Regions from separate parts of the Homo sapiens genome. Here regions 2, 3 and 4 are each linked to region 1. The links come from fine-mapping of genetic effects on gene expression. A gene starts in region 1. Each other region holds a variant in brackets. All regions are shown on one strand. Distances are from middle to middle.

Evidence for each region. PIP is the estimated chance that this variant, and not a neighbour inherited with it, causes the effect. A credible set is the group of variants that fine-mapping cannot tell apart.
Region 2: its variant is the best candidate, but not a certain one, in a credible set for the expression of TCHP in whole blood (Lepik 2017, PIP 0.90).
Region 3: its variant is the best candidate, but not a certain one, in a credible set for the expression of TCHP in tibial nerve (GTEx, PIP 0.73).
Region 4: its variant is the best candidate, but not a certain one, in a credible set for the expression of TCHP in whole blood (INTERVAL, PIP 0.78).

What each region holds. Positions count from the first base shown.
Region 1 is chr12:109,897,320-109,903,166 of GRCh38, reverse strand. It overlaps TCHP (trichoplein keratin filament binding), which reads right to left and starts at 2,893. Exons shown (of 13, transcript NM_001143852.2): 1 at 2,741-2,893; 2 at 1-140. The coding sequence starts at 140. RefSeq lists enhancers at 1,489-2,329, 2,330-3,170 and a silencer at 2,563-2,672.
Region 2 is chr12:109,733,533-109,739,379 of GRCh38, reverse strand. The region is part of intron 1 of FAM222A (family with sequence similarity 222 member A); the gene reads right to left. It overlaps FAM222A-AS1 (FAM222A antisense RNA 1), which reads left to right. Exons shown (of 3, transcript NR_026662.2): 2 at 3,559-3,789; 3 at 4,787-5,171. Among named protein-coding and RNA genes, the nearest start is that of FAM222A, 23 kb to the right of the region's middle. RefSeq lists enhancers at 1-20, 1,457-1,601, 2,105-2,604, a cis regulatory region at 1,522-1,535 and a silencer at 2,509-2,709. The variant G/A (reference allele first, on the strand shown) is at 2,323.
Region 3 is chr12:109,968,957-109,974,803 of GRCh38, reverse strand. All of the region lies in intron 7 of GIT2 (GIT ArfGAP 2), which reads left to right. It overlaps LOC124903013 (a long non-coding RNA gene), which reads right to left and starts at 1,367. Exons shown (of 3, transcript XR_007063456.1): 1 at 717-1,367. The variant C/T (reference allele first, on the strand shown) is at 2,885.
Region 4 is chr12:110,725,776-110,731,622 of GRCh38, reverse strand. It overlaps PPP1CC (protein phosphatase 1 catalytic subunit gamma), which reads left to right. Exons shown (of 7, transcript NM_002710.4): 3 at 864-1,094. Among named protein-coding and RNA genes, the nearest start is that of PPP1CC, 14 kb to the left of the region's middle. The variant TG/G (reference allele first, on the strand shown) is at 3,225.

The sequences.
Region 1 (5,847 bases):
CAGATGTCAGACATCCTGAAGTAACGGCTGTTCTGCTCCCACTGCTGCCGAAGCCGGGCCTCCTGCTCTCGCTGTCGTGCTAGCTGCTGATTCAGGCGCTGCTGGCTGCACCAGTAGGACGGCAGCGTCGGGAGCGCCATCTGAGAACAGGAATGGGAGGAAAGTGAGCCACTGCAAATCCCAGGAACCCTCACCAGCTTGGCCTCATCCCTTTAACGAGTGGTCACCACCCCTTGGCTGCACAGTGAAATCAACTGGTGGAACTTTAAAACAAACAAACAAACAAAACCGTGTCTGAGCCCCACTCCAAACTAATTCAATCAAAAAACTTAGTAGGGCCCAGGCACCAGCATTTTTTAAAATGATCTGCCACTAGTGCTGCAAATCATCCTTTTAAATTTGCCGTGGCTCACGCCTGTAATCCCAGCACTTTGGGAGGCCAAGGTGGGCAGATCACGAGGTCAGGAGTTCGAGACCAGCTGCGCCAACATAGTGAAACCCCTGTCTCCACTAAAAATACAAAAAATTAGCCAGGCGTGCTGGTGGGCGTCTGTAATCCCAGCTCCTTGGGAGGCTGAGGCAGGAGAGTCACTTGAACCCAGGAGGTGGAGGTTGCAGTGAACCAAGATTGTCCCACTGCACTCCAGCCTAGGCGACAGTGCAAGACTCCATCTCAAAACACAACAAAACAAAACAAATAAACCTTAGCCAGACACAGTGGCTCATGCCTGTAATCCCAACACTTTGGGTGGCTGAGGCAGGAGGATCACTTGAGGCCGGGAGTTGGAGACCAGCCACATCATGAGACTCATCTCTATAAAAAATCAAAAATTAGCCAGGAGTGGTGGTGCGCCTGTAGTCCCAGCTACTCAGGAGGCTGAGGCAGGAGGATTGCTTGAGCCCAGGAGGTCACGGCTGTAGCGAGCCATGATAGCGCCACTGCACTCAGCCTGGGTGACAGTGAGACTCTGTCTCAAAAAAACAAAAACATAAAAAATTCTGGACTGCGTGCACCCAGCTGTGGGCCAGCCATCACCAGGAACACAACAGACAGACACAGGGATTGTCCTAAGATTGCTAGACTAGGCACATCGGGGGCATTTATGCTGTGCTTAAACAGAGACAATAATGTAAGGAACACATGTATGTGCCAAGCACTCAATACATATGACTTTTTTTCATTCTTACAATCACCTCGCTATTTGGCAGGTAAGGAAACTTACGTTGAAGAGGTAAAGTTGTTGTACCCGAGCGAGTTAGAGAAACGCCACAGTTTGAGACGAAATTAAGAGTCCTTTATTTAGCCAGTGCCCAAGAGACGGCTAATAAATTCTCTTGGCCCGAGGAAGGGGCTTGATTTTCCTTTATACTTTGGTTTAGGAAGGGGAGGGGAGCTCAGATGCAACAATTCTACATAAGTAAAAACATGCAAAAATTAAAAGGACAAAGAGTCACAGAGAAACAATTAAAAGACAAATGGTTACAGAGAAACAACAGTTCCAGGTGCAGGGGCTCTAAATCTTTCATAAAATGTTAGATATGGGTGCTCTGCCCGACACCAACTCAAGGTTTTATGGTGTTATCTTTTGAGCAAAATCCTGGGAACTTCGTACATTGCTTGTTTCAGTACCTTATCAGTTAATTGGACTCTTTGATATGTTGAGATTCTGCTTACACAAGTTAACTCCTTGAGGAAAGGGGTGGGTAAGGAGTCCTTGATGTCTTGTAAATGAGGGAACCAGATGGAGTTCATCCGGCTTTCTCAACTAAGGGAGAGCTAATTCATGTGGAAACAAGGCTAGGTGATTAAGGGGAAAAAAAGAGTCTAAAAGCAAGGTTAGTAAAAACAAGGTAAGGCATTAAAAAACAAGGTTAGTAAAAACAACGTTAAGCATTACAAAGTGATTTGCTCAGGATCACAGAGCCAGGAAGTAAAGGAGATAAACAAGCTGGGTTCCTAATTCATGTCCGTCTGAGACCAGAGCCCAGGCTCTCTCTGCTGCAAGGGGCTGCCTGTTGGGACCAACCTGCCCTGGCTCTGGCAGTCCCCGGGGAGGGGACTGATAATAACACTCGGAAGTATGTTGGGCTACCATGGAGGACAGACCTTTCATCTTGCAGATGAAGAAGCTGAGACCTAGAGAGAGGAATTGCCTGAGCAATGTAGGGATACAGCTGGAGCCTTGAAAGCAGAGAGCAGTCTCACTCCAGGCACCAATTCCCCTGACCCAAAAGCTGTCCTCAAGTGTAGGGTCGATGCAGTGCCTGGGTAGGAACGCCGGCTGAATGAGCGAAAAGGCCTGGTGCACGCCAAGAATCTCATTCTGGAGGTCCTCCAGTTTTGGGGGCAAACACTCTGCGTCTATGGTCCAAATGTAGCCGGCAGGCTGCTAACGTGTGACCTCGGTCTCGAGACCGTGGCAAGCTTCACATACTTTTTTCCCGCTCCCGTAAAGCCGCCAGTGGATCAGTCTTTGCACCAAGAGTTAAAAGTTTAAGATTCCCGTCCCGGATTGGCCACCCACAAGGTGGGCTGCTCCCCGAACACGTCGCATCCCTCTCTCGACCTGAACATGCACGTGCAACAAATGGGGTCACAGCGCGTGGGGAGCGCAGTGAGGACCCCGGAGGCGCCCTGAGCTCGCGCCCGCTGACTGCCGCCCCGGTTCCCGCCCGCGCGGGCCGCCTGCGGGCCCCCGCCCTAACGCCGGATCCGGCCTAGTCCAACCCTCCGACTCACATTTCTCTGAGGCTCGGAGTTTCCGAAGAGTCCCCCGGCCCGACTTCCCGCAGGCACGAAGCGGGCCGGCCAGTCCCCCGGTGTAATTCCCAGACGCGCTACAGCAACGCCGGCTGTTTCCTCCCTGTTTGCACCGGCAACGAGCCCGACGACGGAGCGTCGCAAGGGCCAAGCCTCCTTCAGCGCGTAGGGAGCCTGTGTTTTTCTCTGGTGCCCCGTCGTGGCCAGCGGGAGATAAATAGCAAACGTCGCTGCTCCTTGAAATAGGGAAGCATGGAGGCAAAGAATCCGTCCATGCACTACACGTATTTCAGGATGGTGGTTACCATCACGTGAAGGTGAAGGTGGAAACCAGGGGGAAGAGAATGTAAGTCAGTGGTCCTCAAACCTGGCTGCGCGTGAGAATCACCAGATACCAGCCTGGGCAACACAGAGGGACTCCTGTCTCTAAAAAATTTTTTAAACTTAACCGGGCATGGTGGGACTTGTGGTCCCAGCTACTCGGGAGACTGAGGCGGGAGGATCAGTTGAGCCCAGGAGATCGAGGCTGCCGTGAGCCATGACTGTGCCACTGCACTCCAGCCTGGGTGACAGAGCCAGACACTGTCTCAAAAAAAAGAAGAAAAAATCCAGATACCTTTAAAAAATCCAGATGCCCAAACCAAACCCCAAATCCCATCTGAGAGTATCAGTGTTTTCCAAAATTCCCCAGGTGTGTTCAATGTACAACTTGGGCAGAGGCCTGCTGGCATAAGTAGATGGAAGTTATTGGTAACTTTTTTATTTTTTTGAGACAGAGTCTTGCTCTGTCGCCAGGCTGGAGTGCAGTGGCGTGATCTCGATTCACTGCAACCTCCGCCTTACGGGTTCAAGCGATTACCCTGCCTCAGCCTACCGAGTAGCTGAGACTACAGGCGCACGCCACCACGCCCAGCTAATTTTTTGTATTTTAGTAGAGATGGGGTTTCACCATATTGGTCAGGATGGTCTCGATCTCCTGACCTCGTGATGCGCCTGCCTCAGGCTCCCAAAGTGCTAGGATTACAGGAGTGAGCCACTGCACCCGGCCGATAACTTTCTATTATAGTCTTATATTGGTGGTGAGTTCAAAAGTGTTCATTCTATTAGTATGTTTTATAACTCGTGTGCTACAAGTATTACATGCCAACTATTCCATTAAAAAGAAAATGAAGAAAAATACTTGTTTGTTCTCTTTTCTTTCATTTTCCCATTCTTTCATTTCTTCTTCCCTTCATTTCTCCATTCTTTATTCATCTCTGTTTTTCCTGGATGCAGCATCATGGCCTCAGCTGGGTTCAGTGGCTTACGCCTGTAATCCCAGCACTTTGGGAGGCCCAGGAGGGTGGATTACCTGAGGTCAGGAGTTGAAGACCAGCCTGGCCAACATGATGAAACCCCGTCTCTGCTAAAAATACAAAAATTAGCCGGGCATGATGGCAGATGCTTATACTCCCAGCTACTCGGGAGGCTGAGGCAGGAGAATCGCTTGAACCTGGGAGGCAGAGGTTGCAGTGAGCCAAGATTGCGCTGCTGCACTCCAGCCTGGGTGACAAAGTGAGACTCCACCTCCAAATTAAATAAATAAATGAATACATAAATAAATAAATAAAATTAGCAGGCTGTGGTGGTGCACACCTATAGTCCTAGCAACTTGGGAGGCTGAGGTGGGAGGATCACTTGAGCTCAGGACAAGGAGGCTGCAGTGAGCCGTGATCACACCATTGCACTCCAGCCTGAGTGACAGAGTGAGACCCTGTCTCAAAACATGGTCTCTACAGTCAGAACGCCCAGGTTTCAAGCTATACCATGCTGGTGTAGTCTTGGGCAGGTCACTTCATCTGTCTGTGCCTCAGCTTCCTAGTCCATGGAATGAGAGTAAAAATAGAGCAACTTTCAGGCCGGGCCTGGTGGCTCATGCCTGTAATCCCAGCACTTTGGGAGGCCAAGGCTGGCGGATCTCTTGAGGTCAGGAGCTTCAGACCAGCCTGGCCACATGGTGAAACCCCCGTCTCTACTAAAAATATAAAAATTAGCTGGGCGTGGTGGCAGGCACCTGTAGTCCCAGCTACTCGGGAGGCCGAGGCAGGAGAATCGCCTCAACCGAGGAGACGGGGGTTGCAGTGAGCCAAGATCATGCCACTGCACTCTAGCCTGGGCAACAGAGCAAGACTCTGTCTCAAAAAACAAAGCAAAACAAAAAATAGTGCAGCTTTCTAGGGTTGCCCGTGTGAGAATAAATGGAGCATGCCCAGGAGTAGAGCATCCAGTGCATCCCAGGTGAGCCCAAACTTGAGCCTTCCTTCACATCCCCCTTTAGTTGGCACCTGTTTAATCAGGGTCTGTCCCACTGCGTGCATAAGAGTCCTCAAGTTTCCCTCCCATTAATCCCTACCCCCTTGGGCAAATTCATGGCCACTCTTTCATGTTGTGTCCCCAGTGCAGAGGGGTGGCAGCAGCCCACTGCAGTCACTTAGCAGAGATGCCCACCCAACAAAGGAGACCAACACATAAATGTCTGTCGACAGGAACTTCATAAACACATGAATTGGACCAGGCGTGGTGGCTCACGCCTGTAATCCTAGTATTTTGGGAGGCTGAGGCAGGTGGATCATTTGAGGTCAGGAGTTCGATACCAGCCTGGCCAACGTGGCGAAACCTTGTCTCTACTAAAAATACAAAAATTAGCCAGGTGTGGTGGCATGCACTTGTAATCCCAGCTCGGGAGGCTGAGGCATGAGAATCACTTGAACCCAGGTGGCAGAGGTTGCAGTGAGCCGAGATCTGACCGCTGAACTCCAGCCTGGGCAACAGAGGGAGTCCCTGTCTCAAAAAAAAAAAAGAAAGAAAGAAAGAAAAGAAAAGAAAAAGAAATATGTGAGTTGGGGCAAGGTAAGGGAGACCTGATCCTGATTTTGTGCCTCTTGGGCAAGGCCTTTCCACTCTCTGGGCCTCAGTTTCCTCATCTGTATAATGACCAGATAAGCTCCACTAGCAGAACTTTAGGGCTTAGGGCTCGACCAGCATGCCGGAGGGCAACCATTCCTAAGTGGCCTGATCCTGGAAGCCTGAAGTCCCCAGATTACAGC
Region 2 (5,847 bases), 160 kb after region 1:
AGTGTCCTGCCAGAAAGGAACATCTAGCCAGAACTGACCTCCCAATAAAAATGAATGTTCCTGACCTCTCTCTGCCTCCAGCATTTTCCTGATGTGGCAGGCATCTGGAACTTTCCCTCGTGTCCACAGGTCAGCAGTCTGCCCCTTGCCAGGCTGGGTTGACCCCAAGGCAGAATAGGAGGAGGACACACCTGGCTTCACGGCAGGGCCCTGAGATTGTGACCCCGGGAAAGCCATGGGCTGCGCCTCTGAGCCCCCATCTCCTCCTCTACCTCCAATCCCTAGAGCTACCCACCTGGCTTCTGTGGCTCCATTCAAGGCCAAAGCCTAGCTGTGACCTGGAGGGGAAGGTCATGCCAGGCCCTTCCTGGTGTCCAACAGGACTAGTTCAGAGAAGAGAGCTGGCCCCAGAGGCCTCTGGGTTGTACCTGCCAGGCAGGGGCCAGGCACTGGGGTTCTCACTGGCTGGGTGACCTGGAGGAAGTCACAGCACCTCTCTGAGTCTGTTTCCCAAATGAACCTTTATGGGGAGTGGACCAGCTGATAGTATGAGGGCCATCTAACTTGGACATAAGAGGATGTGATCATTTGGTTTCCAAACTTAATCCAGCTGTGTACAAGGTGTGGGGCAGTCCCTGAACTGTGGGCACACAAAGGGGCTCTAGACGTAGCCATTGTCTTTGAGGGACTTAGAATCTCGAGCAGGGACAAGATAGGAAGCTGGCAAAACCCAGCAGTTCATCATGCAAGGAGTAGAGTAGATGGTTCAGACTCTGAATTCCCTTTCAGGAAGTGAATGAGATGCTGGCCACTCCTCAGGGCCTCGCAGCCTTCCTGGGGGTGGTGGCAGGATAGGTGGGTGGTGAGGGAGCCCTCCCACAGTTCTCACCTCCATCCCTCTGGCTGTAATTCAAGTCTCTTCACGCTGCCTGGCCACACAGCCTGCTCCAAAGGCAGATAGGAGCCTGAAATGGTGGTGAGAGGCCCAGGGCCCGGGGAAGAGAATGAATGCTGGATTGGGAATACTAGGGTCAGACCCTGGTGGTGTGGCCCTAAATGGGTCACTTCTCTGTGTTGGTCCCCAGCACCACGAGCTGAGCAAGTAGAAAGCCTCAGAAAGTCCAGACCTCTCTAAATAATGAGGGGCAGCAAACCTGCTTCTGGCCAGGAAGAGTGGAGGGACCCTTGCCCAGCCCAGGAATGTCCTCAGGAATCTAGGTGCAAGCTTCCCCCAACCCCCTTAGGGGCTCCCACGACAGGAAGATCCACTGTCTGTCTCTTTCCTCTCCTCTGTCTACATCCCTGTCCTTAGCTCCACCTGCCTCCTGTCCTGATGCCTCCCTTCTCCTTCCTGCTGTCTCTCTCTCTTTCTCCCTTCCTGACCCCTCTTCCCTTGCTCCTTCCTCTCTCTCCCACCCCGCTTGTCTCAGCAAGGCAGCCAGAGTAGAAGCCCATCCCCACCTCCCTCCTGCCGCTCCCTCCCCCATCTCTGTTCTGAGCCGGAGGCCTTCCAAGGGACCCTGTTAATAATTAAATGTTAATCTAAAAAGCAATTTGAGCTGCGGCTAGGCAGATCTGGTTAGAGATTACATTAGCATGGAGGAGGCGAGGGTAATTTTCTTTAACCCCTCTCCTGATCTCTCAAGCCGGGGATTCTTCAAGTCACACCGGCACTGCTGATTAAACTGGCACAGGGCTTGGCTGTGGATAAGGGGCCTGTGAAAAGTGATTATTTCCCACTGCCATTTGGGCCTCAGCACCAGAAGGGGATTTTTACCTTTTTTTTTTTTTTTTAAGGTTGGGGGCTGGGGAGGTACTGTCCCCTTGAATAGGAGGCCTCATCTTCTGCCAGAATTACCACTGTATCTGTCCCCACCCCAGCAGGCCAGGGGCTCTCTAAAATGCTGCAAATCTTGTCACAGAGCATACCTGGCTCTTTGGTTTCTAGGACAAAGATGCCAGTCCCCTGCCTGGCTCCAACACCCCTCCATTGTGCCTGGTTCTGGGCTGGGCACTAGAGCCAGAGATGCTGGCAGTTCTGAGCCAAAGGGGAGACCAAAAAGTAAAGTGACAATCACCAATTCTGGCTGGCAGCCAGAGTCCTGAGGTGGGCTTCCCTCTGCACAAGACTCTCACCTGCACACTTGCAGGCTTTGGCCCATGCAATCCCAAGAGCCAGGAAGGACTTTTGAGCAGAAGGACTGCTCAAAAGCCCTTTCTGGCTCTCTACCCCTTAAAACTCAACTCGACCTTCAATTGGAGTCCGGGTTCCTGAGGGCTTCTCCAAGACATACAAGGTACATAATAAATGTTTGATGAATC[G/A]TCAAATGACTGGAGTCCCATGTGGCTCTCCTTGATCCTTCCTCTATGGGTTCACGGTGCTACAGCAGTGCCTGAGCACAGGGCCCTCAGGAAAACGTCTCCTGAACAAAGGATGGGCAAGAGGCTGTCCTAGGGAGTTGGGGCAGGGTGGGCCTCAGGAAGTGTCCTACTGGGACACACAGCTGGGGTCTGGGGGTAGGTGGCCATTCCTGGGCCTGTCAGCACCACGGCCAGCTCCCGGCGCAAGAGCCCTGGAGAAAGGGGCGGGGTACAGCCTGAGAGCATAGTGATGTCAGTCGCCATGGGAACTGACAACTGCGATGTGCCTCCGTCAGCACTCCAACCACTGGGGACGGCATGACAGATTAAACACCAACTATGTGCCAGGCCAGGCCCTGTGCTAGATGCTGGGGCAGTGACAGACCCTGAGTGGATGGGAGGCATCAGAGGGGTAATTACAAGGCAGGGAGACAAGCGGTGGCCATGTTGGGGTCACCCTACCTGGCCTGGGGGGGTCATGATGTAAGGACACACCAGCTGCCTCATTAGCAGAGCGACAGTGTCTGTCCCCGACTTCACATCCGGATGTCTGAGCTTTACACCCTAACTCTGTGAGCTTAGGCAAATCCCTCCCTCCTCTCTGAGCCTTAGTTTCTGCGTCTGCAAAAGGGGTTAATTCCTTACAACAAAGTGCCAGGGTCCTTGTGGTAGCTGCCTAAGTGGTACCCGTTGTTAGCATTGTTTATGGTCGCTATCAACAGGTAAGTAGGAAAAAGCTAGGGGAAGGGAAGGATCCCACAGAAGGGACTGCACAGGCCACCACATGGAGACTTGAGAGAGAGGAGCAAACAGAGAACATGAAGGAGCTCCAGGCTGCTGGAGAGCAAACCCTCCTGGTGAGTCACTGAGAGCACCTCACCTATGCAGGGCCAGGCAGGGACCCCCCCAACCTCAGAGCGGGGAGATCTGTTTCCTCTGCACTAGTGCTAGTTCAGGACAGGGACTCAGAGAAGGTGCCAGAAGGAGGGGCAGTCACTGCCACTGGCAACAGGCCTGGCTGGCCCTCTCCCAGAGCCATGGACCTCTGAAGGGCAGTTTCACTCTTCCCAGAGAGCCAGGGATCCCAAGGTGCAAAGTTTGGAGCCAGGGGCAGGCTGAGCCTCTGTTCTCCTAGTTCCAGCCTCGGCTCTTTAATGAAAATTGTCAGTCAAGTAAGACTCCGTCATCACCTTCCAGCAAAGAATGAGTGGGGAGATCTGAGAATCGATACTGAACAGCTTCAGTACTACGATGTCATAATGGGGCTGTGAGCTCAGCCGAAAGCCCCCCGCCCAGTTTTTTTTGGAAGTGGTCATAGAATCTCTCTGGAGAAACAACATGGAAATGGAGACCAAAAGAGGGAAGGAGGGATGCCACCAGATGACACTGGGATCCCGGAAGACGGAACACTGTGTGCAACGGGCAAAGGTAAGACCCACAGTGGAGATGGGAGGGGCCCGGTATCTCTAGCCTTCCTCCCACCTATTCCCCCAGTCCCTGCACCCACAGTTCAGGGTTAAAGCAGGCAACGGGGAAGGAGAAAAATCTAATAGTAAGAGCAATAAGAGCTAGCTTTTATTTTTAGTGTTCTCCACAGGCTCAGTACTTTACAGACGTCACCTCACGTAACCCACGCCACAACCGGGAGAAAGACATGATTGGCGTTGTACCCACGAGGAAACAGAGAGGGAAGGGAGCTGTCCAGGACCACGGGGTTGGTTGGTGGAGCAGGCAGGAAAGCCCCACGGAAGAGGTTGGCCTGGGCCAGACAGGGTTTGAGGATTCAGGCCCCAAGGGACGGGGAGGAAGAAGACTGGGTCCTTGTGCAAGAATGACCCAAGAGTGTTTAGAAGACGCAGTGGCCCAGGTCGGGGGAGGAGAGTGGACAAAAGTGGCTGGCAAGGGCTGGCCTTAGCTTTTAGCCCAATGCTAAGATCAGTAGATGCTTCTGGGGGTCAGGCTGGGGCAGAAATGAATGGAGCCTTCGAGGCAGGGGTTAGGAAACAGGACAGGACACTCGGCCCAAATGACAGCGCCACCACTCCACATCCCAGAGTTCATAAGCTCTCTCAATGTTTGTTTTATTTAAATCTCCAAGAGTCAAACGCCACTCACCACCCATGTGTGGGTCAGTCTCCAGCTTTCCACCTCTGCTGTGAGTGAGGGTAGAGGGGCGTCGTGTCTCTAACCCCTCCTATGGTCAGGGAGCTCCCTCCATGTCATCCGGCCACAGGCACTGTGATTTAGAAAGTGCTGGAGCCAGACCACCTGGGTTCAACCCCCTCCCCCTGTCATAGCCTAGCGGCTGACGGTTAACTGGGGAATTTTCCTTTTCTTCTTTGTGCTTCTCTGTATTTCTAATTTTTCCACAATGAACATGCATGACTTCTGGTTTTTCTTTCTTTCTTTTTTTTTTTTTTTAAAGAACTTTTCAAAAGGGATTTCAACCTCTGACCACCTGGAGACAGGCGACTGGCGCTCATTGTAAATGCACCGACATGACAGGGAACAGCTGCTGGGGAGGTGGAGACGGGTGCCGGGAGAGACAGGAAACCCCAGAGGCTTGGAAATCCAGGAGCCACAGGAAGCAGTGAGCTTTCTGCGGAGCCGGATCCGGTGGAGCCAATTCACCAGCAGGTCCCGGCAGCAACTCTTCTACAACAGATTCCTGCCCGTCCCTGTGCCCCATCGCCCCCCTGCCGTCAATCTCCACCTCAAGGGAGCCAGACCAAGCCTTTCTGTGTGTAGCGCACATCTCTCCTGCGTAGAGCTCACCTAGTGGCTTCCATAGCTTTTTTTTTTTTTTTTTTGGAGACAGGGTCTTGCCCTGTCACCCAGGCTGGGGTACGGTGGCATGATCATGGCTCACTGCAGCTCCCTCCTGGGCTCAAGTGATCCTCCTGCCTCAACCTCTCAAGTAGCTGGGACTACAGTTGTGCACCACCCCACCCAGCTAATTATTATTTTTTGTAGATGTGGGATCTTGCTATGTTGCCCAGGCTGGTCTTGAACTCCTGGCCTCAAGCAACCTTCTCACTTCAGCCTCCCTAAGTGCTGGAATTATAGGTATGAGCCATCCCGCCAGTCTTCCGTGGCTTTTCTAACAATATCCTTGAAGGACCTCTGTGAATCCCTTTCCCAATGTCTATCTGCACTGTCCCTGTCCCAGGCTGATCCTGCTCAGACACGCTGGCTTGCTTTCTGGTCCTCTCACAAGCCAACCCTGTCCCCACCCCAGGGCCTTTGCACTTATGGTTTTGCCTCTACCTAAATACCCTATACCAGTGCTGTCTGATAGAAATATGTAATAATGGGGGCCGGGCGTGGTGGCTCACACCTGTAATCCCAGCACTTTTGGGAGGCCGAGATGGGCAGATCACGAGGACAGGAGATCGAGACCATCCTGGCTAACACGGTGAAACCCCCTCTCTACTAAAAATACAAAAAATTAGCCAGGCGTGGTGGCGTGTGCCTGTAGTCCCAGCT
Region 3 (5,847 bases), 72 kb before region 1:
ACTAAACCAGACCAAAACCCAACTAGATCTAGTTGATGTTTATAGACTCTTCTACCTGACAACATTAGAATACACATTCTTTTCAAGTACATATTGAACATACACCCAGATAGACCATATCCTGGGTCATAAGACAAACCTTAGCTAATCTAAAAGAATTAAAATTCTATAAAGTATATTTTCAGACCATAATAGTATTAAGCTACAGATAGGTAATACAAATAAAACTGGAGAATACCCAAGTGCTTGGAAGTTGAACAACATGCTGCTTTTTTTTGGAAACAGAGCCTCGCGCTGTTGCCCAGGCTGGAGTGCAGTGGCGCAATCTTGGCTCGCTGCAACCTCTGCCTCCTGGGTTCAAGCAATTCTCCTGTCTCAGCCTCCCTAGTACTGGGATTACAGGCACGTGCTACCACACCCAGCTAATTTTTGTATTTTTAGTAGAGATGGGGTTTCACCATGTTGACCAGGCTGGTCTCCAACTCCTGGCCTCAGGTGATCCACCCACCTTAGCCTCCCACAGTGCTGAGATTACAGGTGTGAGCCACCGTGCCCGGCCCTGAACAACACACTTCTAACTAATCCATCGATCTAAGAGGAAGTCTTAAGGGAAAAAATATTTTCCACTGAATGAAAATGAAAATGCAGCATATCAGAATTTCTGGGATGCAGCCAAAGCAATGCTTAGAGGAAACTTTATAGTATTAAATTCTTACCTTAGAAAAGAAGAAAGGTCTCAAATCATTCTCATCATTATTTTTTGAGATGGTGTCTTGCTCTGTCACCCAGGCTGGAGTGCAGTGATGTGATCTTGGCTCACTGCAACCTCCCCCTCCCAGGTTCAAGTGATTCTCCTGCCTCAGCCTCCTGAGGAACTGGGATTATAGGCATGCAGCACCATGCCTGGCACATTTTTGTATTTTTAGTAGAGATGGAGTTTTACCATGTTGGCCAGGCTGGTCTCTAACTCCCCACCTCAAATGATCTGCCTGCCTCAGCCTCCCAAAGTGCTGGGATTACAGGCGTGAGACACCGCGCCTAGCCTCAAATTATTAATATAAGCTCCTCCCTTAAGAAACTTTAAAAAAAAAAAGAGCAAAATAAACCTGAACCAAACAGAAGGCAGCAAATAGTAAAGAGCAGAAATCAATGAAACTGAAAGAAGGAAACAGTAGCGAAAAATCAATGAAACTGAAAGAAGGAAACAGTAGCGAAAAATCAATGAAACCAAAGCTGGTTTTTCAGAAGGATTAGTAAAACTCATAAATGTCTGGCAATACTGACAAAAAGGAGAGTGTACAGATGGAGTTGTCACTATAAACCCCACAGACATGGAAGGATAATTAAAAAAAAATACAAAGCAGACCGGGCGCGATGGCTCATGCCTGTAATCCCAGCACTTTGGGAGGCTGAGGCAGATAGATCATTTGAGGTGGGGAGTTAGAGACCAGCCTGGCCAACATGGTGAAACTCCGTCTCTACTAAAAATACAAAAATTAGCTGGGCATGATGGTGGGCGCCTGTTATCCCAGCTACTTGGGAGGCTGAGGCAGGAAAATCGCTTAAACCTGGGAGGCAGAGGTTGCAGTGAGCTGAGATTGTGCAACTGCACTCCAGCCTGGGTGACAGAGTCAGACTCCATCTCTAATAATAACAATAATAATAATAGTAATACAGACCAGGCATAGTGGCTCACAGTGGTAATCACAACACTTTGAAAGGCCGAAGTAGGAGGATTGTTTGAGGCCAAGAGTTTGCGACCAGCCTGGGCAACATAGCAAGACCCCATCTACAAAACTGCAACAACAAAAAAATCAGCCTAGCCTGATGGCACGTGCCTGTAGTCCCAGTTACTCTGGAGGCTGAGGTGAGAGGATTGCTTGAGCCCAGGAGGTCAAGGCTACAGTGAGCTGTGTTCGCACCACTGTACTCTAGTCTGGGTGACAGAGTGAGACCCTGTCTCAAAAAAAAATAGAGAAAAATGCAACATAACCAAGTGGGATTTCCAGATAGGCAAGACTGATTTAATATTTGAAAATCAGGCCAGGTGCAGTGGCTCACGCCTGTAATCCCAACACTTTGGGAGGCCAAGGTGGGTGGATCACCTGAGGTCGGGAGTTTGAGACCAGCCTGGCCAACATGGTGAAACCCCGTCTCTACTAAAAATACAAAATTAACTGGGCATGGTGGTGCATGCATGTAGCTACTTGGGAGGCTGAGGCAGGAGAATCACTTAGAACCCGGGAAGCAGAGGTTGCAGTGAGCTGAGATTGCGCCATTGCTCACCTGCCTGGGCGACAGAGCGAGACTGTGTCTCAAAAAAAAAAAAAAATCAGTTAATGTAATCTATCAAGTTAACAGTAAAAACGAAAAACTATGTAATCATATCAGTTGATGCAGAAGAAGCATTCAACAAACTTCAACATCCATTCATGTTTTAAAAAAACTCTTAGCAAACTAGGAATAGATGAGACTTCCTTGATCTGATAAACAGTATCTATTTAATGATGAAAGACTGTGTTTGCTTTCAAATTGGGAGAAAGACTAGGGTGTCCACTCTTACCATTTCTCTTCTACATCACACTGGAAATCCTAACCAGTGCCAAGAGGCAAGAAAAATAAATAAAAGGCATACAGATTGAAAAGGAAGAAATCAAACTGTCCCCATTCAAATGAGATGATTTCTATGTAGAAAATCACAAGGAACCTACAAAAAGGTTTCCAGAACCTTGAGTTAAACAAGATTGCAAGAATACAAGGTCAACAGCCAAAAATCCATATATATATATATATTTTTTTTTCCCTTTTTTTTGAGATAGTCTTGCTCTGTCACCCAGGCTGGAGTGCAGTGGTGTGATCTCGGCTCACTGCAACCTCCGCCTCC[C/T]GGGTTCAAGCAATTCTCCTGCCTCAGCCTCCCATGTAGCTGAGATTACAGGTGCCCCCCACCATGCCTGGCTAATTTTTTGTATTTTCAGTAGAGACAGGGTTTCGCCATGTTGGCCAGGCTGCTCTGGAACTCCTGACCTCAGGTGATCCACCCACCTTGGCCTCCCAAAGTGCTGGGATTACAGGTGTGAGCCACCGCACCCTGCCAAAAATCCATCACATTTCTTTAGACTAGCAGTGAGCAATTGGAAACTGAATCTAGAAAAGCAATACCAGTAATAAAAGCTCCAAATTGGCTGGGCACAGTGGCTCACACCTATAATCCCAGCACTTTGGGAGGCAGAAGGGGGTGGGTCACCTGAGGTCGAGTTCGATACCAGCCTGGTTAACATGGGGAAGCCCTGTCTCTACTAAAAATACAAAAATTAGCTGGGCATGGTGGTGGGCGCCTGTAGTCCCAGCTATTCGGGAGGCTGAGTTAGGAGAATCGCTTGAACCTGTGAGGTAGAGGTTGCAGTGAGCCTGAGATCTTGCCACTGCACTCCAGCCTGAGCGACAGAGTGGGACTCTGTCTCAAAAAAATTAAAAAGCTCCAAATTAAATACTTAGGTATAAATCTAATGAAATACACAATACATGTAGTATCTATATGCCAAAAACTGCTGATGAAAGAAATCAATGAAGACCTGAATAAGTGGAGAGATGTACTGTGCTTATGGATATGAAGACTCAATAACATGTCAATTCTCCACAAGTTAATAAATGTATAAATTTACTTCAATTGAGGATTTTTTATTAGACATAGACATGCTGATTTTAAAATTCAAATGGAGGCCAGGTATAGTGGCTTACGCCTGTAATCCCAGCACTTTGGGAGGCCACGGCGGGAGGACTACTTGAGCCCAGGAGTTTGAGACTATCCTGGGCAGCATGGTGAGACCTCATCTCTACAAATAATAAATTAGCCATGTGTGATGGTGCATGCCTGTGGTCTCACCTACTCAGGAGGCTGATGTGGGAAGATCACCTGAGCCCAGGAGGTTGAGGCTGCAGTGAGCCATGATCGTGCCACTGCACTCTAGCCTTGGCAACAGAGTGAGACCTCATTTCCAAAAATAATAATAATAATTTAAAAATTCAAATGGAAGGGTGAAGGAACTAGAGTAGCCCAGACAATTTTGCAGAAGAATAATGTGGAAGGAAGTACAGCACCCAATTTTTCAGAATTGCTATGAAGCTGTACAGTTCTCAAGACTGTGATATCTATGAAGAGATAGACATATAGACCATTGAAACAGTATAGAGAATCCAGAGATAGATCCACACAAATATGTTCAATTGATTTTTGTCAAAAGTGCAAAGGTAATCAGTTCAGTGGTGGAGGAAGGATAGTTTTTTGTTGTTGTTGTTGTTTTCTGTTTTTTTAAGACGGAGTCTTGCTCTGTCACCCAGGCTGGAGTGCAGTGGTGGGATCTTGGCTCACTGCAACCTCGGCCTCCCGGGTTCAAGTGATTCTTCTGCCTCAGCCTCCCGAGCAGCTGGGACTACAGGCGCACTCTACCACACCCAGGTAATTTTTTGTATTTTTAGTAGAGATGGGGTTTCACCGTGTTAGTCAGGATGGTGTTGGTCGCCTGACCTCGTGAACTGCCCGCATCGGCCTCCCAAAGTGCTGGGATTACAGGCATGAGCCACTGCACCCGCCCCAGGATATTCTTTTTAATGCATTGGGACAACCGGACATCCATGTGCAGGAAAGTGAACTTCAACCTAAACCTCACACCTTACCCCGAAACTAGAAAGGATCATAGATCTAAATGTAAAACCTGACACTGTAAAACTTCTAGAAGAAAATGTAAGAGGTCCGGGCACGGTGGCTCATGCCTGTAATGCCAGCACTCTGGGAGGTCAAGGCGGGTGGATCACCTGAGGTCAGGAGTTTGAGGCTAGCCTGGCCAACATAGTGAAACCCCGTCTCTACTAAAAATACAAAAATTAGCCAGGCATGGTGGTGAATGCCTGTAGTCCCAGCTACTCAGGAGGCTAAGGCAGGAGAATCGCTTGAATCCAGGAAGCGGAGGTTATAGCGAACCGAGATCACACCACTGCACTCCAGCCTGGGCGACAGAGTGAGACCGCGTCTCAAAAAAAAAAAGAAAACATAAGAGAAAATCTTTGTGATCTTGGATGAAAGCTTTTAGCTATCAGCTGAGTATGGTGGCTCACGCCTGTAATCCTAGTACTTTGGGAGGCCGAAGTAGGAGGATCACTTGAGCCCAGGAAGTCGAGGCTGCAGTGAGCTATGACTATGCCACTGTACTCCAGCCTGGGTGACAGAGCAAGACATTGCCTCTGCAAGGGGGAAAAAGAAACCTCTTAAATATAACACCAAAACTCAATGCATAAAAGAAAATATTGATAAATTATACTTCATCAAAATTGAAAATTTTTGGCCAGGTGCAGTGGCTCACACCTGTAATCCCAGCACTTTGGGAGGCCAAGGCAGGTGGATCACCAGAGGTCTGAAGTTCAAGACCAACCTGACTAACATGGTGAAACTGCATCTCTACTAAATACAAAAAGTTAGCCAGGCATGGTGGTGCATGCCTGTAATCCCAGCTACTTGGGAGGCTGAGGCAGGAGAATTGCTTGAACCCGGGAGGCAGAGGTTGCAATGAGCCAATATTGCACCATTGCACTCTAGCCTGGGCAACAAGAACAAAACTCCATCTCAAAAAAAAAAAAAAAAAAAAAAGGAAAAGTTTTGTTCTGAGAAAACTAGTTAAGAAAGTGAAAAGACCAGCAACAGACTGGGAGAAAAATACAGGTATTTGGAAATCACATATCCAGCAAATTACTCATATTTAGAATATTCAAAGAATTTTAAAAACTCAGGCCGAGCACGGTGGCTCACGCCTGTAATCTCAGCACGTTGGGAGGCTTAGGCAGGTGGATTACCTG
Region 4 (5,847 bases), 830 kb before region 1:
TAGAATAAATACCTCTAATGGACTTAGTTTACTTAGATGTACTTCAGATTTTTAAAAAAAATATTTTGCTGAAGGAATAAACATTGCAAAAGAAAAAAATGAAACTAAGAATGGAGAGCTGAGGAAAGGTCTGAACTACATGGATGTATAGGAATATGTTTAAGTTTAAAGCAACACTGGTTATAGCTAAAAATAGAACTTCCTTGATACTGATTTTGTGGTTCTGTTTTCTGCATAATAGAAGCAAATAATCTGTGTTTTAACTCAATGTAAAACCAAACTTTATTCGTTTGAGTAATATATTCTTATAGCATATTTGCATTGATAAAACTTTGTGTTCATGTTTTTAAAAGTAAAATGTTCTTTGGCATTATCTAGCAGGGAGAAATTGAAAGCTAAATGCATTGATGGGTGGGGGGTGGGGGTGGTGTGTATGTGTGTATGTGCTTTTGTTCAGATGGGGCCAAGACTCACTAGAAGTGCAGCAGTTCTGCTGACACAGTACCCAGAGACTGAGCTGTCAGAGATCTGATATTGATCAGTCAGCCTGAAAGGGATACCATGTTACTTGGCAAGAATGCATGCTTGGACATAATAACCCTTTCCACAGAATAAATTCTTAATAGTTGAATTTTATGTGAGGTTCTGGACATACACATATACTTAAAATTTTTGTTAAGCTCAGTTGAACTAAATATGATATAAGATTGGAAATTACTTAGTGTTGGCTGCCCAGTTAAACTCTCATTACTAGAGGTCAATGCCATTGTACAATGAATATTTAAAGAATGTCTTTCCAAAGCTTTGTTAGTGGATTGAGCTTTAAGTATGGGAACACTGTGTAACAAAATTCTTGCTTCCAGGTGACATCCATGGACAATACTATGATTTGCTGCGACTTTTTGAGTACGGTGGTTTCCCACCAGAAAGCAACTACCTGTTTCTTGGGGACTATGTGGACAGGGGAAAGCAGTCATTGGAGACGATCTGCCTCTTACTGGCCTACAAAATAAAATATCCTGAGAATTTTTTTCTTCTCAGAGGGAACCATGAATGTGCCAGCATCAACAGAATTTATGGATTTTATGATGAATGTAAGTACTTTTCTATATCTAAGGAAGAGTTATTGAAATTAAGATATTTATCATAAACAATTATCACATACTTCTGTTAGGAATTGTGAGAGTTTAGATGCAGTGGTATCATCTCTCATGTTTTCTATTTCATCAACTTGTTTTTAGCTTAGCTTTTTTAGGGGGGTGGGGGAACGGAGTCTCACTCTGTTGCCCAGGCTGGAGTGCAGTAGCACCATCTTACCTCATTGCAACCTCTGCCTCCCAGGCTCAAGCAATCCTCCTGCCTCAGCCTCCCAGGTAGCTAGGACTGCAGACATGCATCACCACGCTTGGCTAATTTGTGTATTTTTTTGAAGAGATGGGGTTTCACCTTGTTGCCCAAGCTGATCTGAAACTCCTGGCTCAAGGAATCTGCCCGCCTAGGCCACTCAAAGTACTGGGATTACTGGCGTGAGCCATGATGCCCAGCCAGTTTTTTCTCTCTTGGGTAGAAAAATAACACTGCCGCTGTAATAAAATAAGGTCTTGGATTCTTTTATGATGTGATGATCAGATTAGGAAGTAATGATCATGGTAATGGTTGCTTTAAGATTTAAATTGTTGTATTCACAGATAACTTAATTCTTAGTAGAAATCTGAGAACCATTCCAAATAGTTTTTTTAAGCAACTTTATTATGTAATTTCATTCCATAAAATTATTCTGTTAAAAGTGTACAATTCAGCGATTTGTAGTAAATTTATAGAGTTATGCGACCATCACCATAGTCCCCAGGCAACCACTAATCTACTTTTTGTCTTTTCTAGAGAATATTGCATGCAAATGGAATCTTGCAATACGTAAATAATTAGTTTTTGAAATTATTATAGTTTTTCTCCTTCTGGCATATCCACACCCAGGAAGAATGGCAATAACTTTCCTAAAACTAAAATGTGCTGAACAAAGATTATTTTTACAGTATTTTACACATTTTGTGACCCATTTTGGATTGTTTAATTAAAGGTATACTTCGATTTGACTATTGACAAAACACAGTTCTTAAAGCTTTGAAAATAGGCTGGGCACAGTGGCTCACGCCTGTAATCCCAGCACTTTGGGAGGCCACAGCGGGTGGATCACAAGGTCAAGAGATCAAGACCGTCCTGGCCAACATGAGGAAACCTCATCTCTACTAAAAATACAAAAATTAGCCAGGCGTGGTGGCAGATGCCTGTAGTCCCAGCTACTCAGGAGGCTCAGGCAGGAGAATCACTTGAACCCAGGAGTCGGAGGTTGCAGTGAGCCAAAATCACACCACAGTAGTCCAGCCTGGGTGGCAGAGTGAGACTCCGTCTCAAAAAAAAAAAAAAAAAAAAGCTTTGAAAATATCAGTTCAGTAAAGGGTTTCAAGTCAGAAAAGGTTTTGAATCTTTACCTTCACCTTCCTTTTGTGCTCATCATTGCTGCCAGGACGGGTTTCAGGTTTGGAGTGAAGAGGTGGTTAAGGAACTTCAGGTACTTGGCATTTGCTAATATGATTATAGGGATATCAGCAAAGGGTTGTCCCTGTGGCCCTCCCCTAGACCACATCGTAACCTAGAGTCTCCAGATGCAGTGTTTTTCCATCTCAATTCACATAGATATGTTGAGCTAGCACATTTGTTAGAAGTGCATCCTAGAAAGATTATATTCACAAACTGAGCCCTTCTACTACCACCCTTTCCCACAACTGGATGTTTGCTTGGTCTGTGACCTTGAGATCCAGCTGATAAGATGGGGTGGCAGGAATCATCAGGGACAAAAATTCTATGGGTTCTGGACTGACTGATAGCATTGAACTTGTACATGAAAGGTATTCAATATTAACAGTGATTCTGTGTCAGAGAAGTACCAGTAAGCCAGTTACTACTCCTTAGGTAGTGAAATGCAAGGCAGGTGTGATGGGTTTTTTTTGTTTGTTTTTGAGACAGAGCCTTAGGCTGGAGTGCAGAGGTGGGATCATAGCTTACTACCACCTGTAATTTCTGGGTTTAAGCAATCCTTTCACCTCAGCCTCCCTAAGTGCTGGGATTACAGTCATGAGCCACCACACCCAGCCAACACTGTGTTTTGGATACTTATTCCAAGTGTTACTCTTGAGTTTTTTGTTTTTTGTTTTTTTTTTTTTTTT[TG/G]AGACGGAGTCTCGCTCTGTCGCCCAGGCTGGAGTGCAGGGCGCGATCTCGCCTCACTGCAAGCTCCGCCTCCTGGGTTCACGCCATTCTCCTGCCTCAGCCTCCCGAGTAGCTGGGACTACAGGCGCCCGCCACTACGCCCGGCTAATTTTTTGTATTTTTAGTAGAGGCGGGGTTTCACTGTGTTAGCCAGGATGGTCTCGATCTCCTGACCTCATGATCCGCCCGCCTCTGCTTCCCAAAGTGCTGGGATTACAGGCGTGAGCCACCGTGCCTGGCCTGCTCTTGAGTTAAAGGATTCCTTTTACATAGCTGTTAGCCCAGCAAATACTTTTCATGTTTGCACTGATGAATTCAAATCCAGTTGACCTCATTTTTGTGACGTGTATCCTAATGTAATGATACTGGCTGCATCAGTTTCGGTTTCTACTTAATGCAGAGGCCTTTAAAAAATGACTTAGAAGATCAGTGTTGGTTGGTATCAGTTTCGACTCCTGTTTGGTCATCAACACAATTTGTAGATCTTATGCTCAAGCTTCCTCTCTCTCATCAGGCAGATATAATTTGCCATCCAGTCTACTTGTGGGCATGAAAGTGCCCTTGACATAGGTGGCTTTTGGTTGAAGGCTTGCAGACATTTAATATATATATAAAATACTTAACTAATTTTATTAAAATGAAAAGTTGTATTCAAATGTTGATTTTCATGGGACAATTTAAAAACCACTGCCTGTTTTCCAGGTACATAAGTACTTTATACTACCATTTCTTTTTTTTTTTTTTTTAACTTTGTAAATGTGATGGAAAGGCTGAGGTATATGTTGTTGGGTAAAACATGAGTGTTTGTTGATCTGTTTCTGCTGCCGTAGCTGTCTGATGTACAGTAATGCGAAACCGCATTACAGGTTATGGCTCAGAATCTTAGGATTTGGAAGCTAGGCGATTACCCTGGCTAAACCTTTCAGGAGCCAGATGTTCCTAGTGGTCTGAGGTAGCCTTAGGGAGGAAATGAAGAGAGAATAGAAAGAGGCAGGCCCACGCTTAAAGTGCTGAGAGGGAAAAGGAGGAAACAAACTGATTTTTGATGGAGAAGCCAGCAGGAATCAGCAGGAGAAGCTGGAGTATGTGGCATAACTAAAGAATCAAAGCCGGGGCGTGGTAGCTCACGCCTGTAATCCCAGCACTTTGGGAGGCCAAGGTGGGTGGATCACTTGAGGTCAGGAGTTCAACCTGATCACAAGAGGTCAGGAGGTCTGACCAACATGGGGAAAACCCATCTCTATTAAAAATACAAAAATTAGCTGTGGTGGTGCACACCTGTAGTCGCGGACACTCAGGAGATTGAGGCAGGAAAATCACTGGAACCTGGGAGACCATGGTTGCAGTGAGCCAAGATTGCGTCGCTTCATTCCCCCTAGGTGATGCAGTGAGACCCCACCTCAAAAAAAGTATCCAGAAGTGAAGCTGACCTTGGGGAAAGAGGAAGTCACTGTCACTGGGGAGCTAAGACAGCAGCTCTGTTTTTATAATACAGGTTAAGTATTCCTTACCGGGAATGCTTGGCACTAGAAGTGTTGCAGGTTTTTTGTTTTTGTTTTTAATTTTGGAATATTTGTGTTATAATTACTGGTTAAACATCCCTAATCCAAAAATCTGAAATCCAGAATGCTCCAGTGAGCATTTCCTTTGAGCATCATGTGAGTGCTCAAAAAGTTCCAAATTTTGGAGCATCTTGGATTAAGGATACTCATCCTGTGGTGGTAGTAGTAGTAGTATTGCTGTTGGAAATGGGAGTTGGTGGTTTTTGGAGATTGCCCTTCAGCCTTTCGTAAGAAGGAGTTTGCTTTTTTTTGAGACGGAGTTTCACTCTTGTTGCCCATGCTGGAGTGCAATGGTGCGATCTTGGCTTACTGCAACCTCTGCCTCCCAGGTTCAAGCAATTTTCCTTCCTCAGCCTGGCGGGAGAAGTTTGTTAAACTTTCCGAACCCCCTAGTGAAGGACCTCTAAAGAAATATGCAACAGGGTGAACCATAGTCAGTGTTAGACCCAGTCATTGAGAAACCAGAAATTATTAGGAGAAAAGATAACACTCCTCTGCAGAGAGAAGGCAAACATTTGTTGAATTTACATTTCATTTCAAGCCCTGTGGTAAACTCCCTAAGCTGCTTGATTTGCATTACAGGGTGGGAGGTGTGGTTCAGGTCAGTTGCTTGGGCTGGCTCTAACTCTCAAAGGAGAGGTATAGGTTTAAACCTTTAGATGTCCCTGTATTCCCCAGGAAAAGAGACTAAGGACAAACTCTTGGTTTGTTTTGTTTGTTTTGTTTTGTTTTTTGAGACGGAGTTTCGCTCTTGTTGCCCAAGCCGGAGTGCAATGGCACAATCAAGGCTCACCGCAACCTCCGCCTCCCAGGTTCAAGTGACTCTTCTGCCTTAGCCTCCCAAGTAGCTGGGATTACAGGCATGCGCCACCACGCCCAGCTAATTTTTATATTTTTAGTAGAGACGGGATTTCTTCATGTTGGTCAGGCTGGTCTCAAACTCCCAACCTCAGATGGTCTGCCCGCCTCGGCCTCCCAAAGTGCTGGGATTACAGGTGTGAGCCACCGCGCCTGGCCAAAC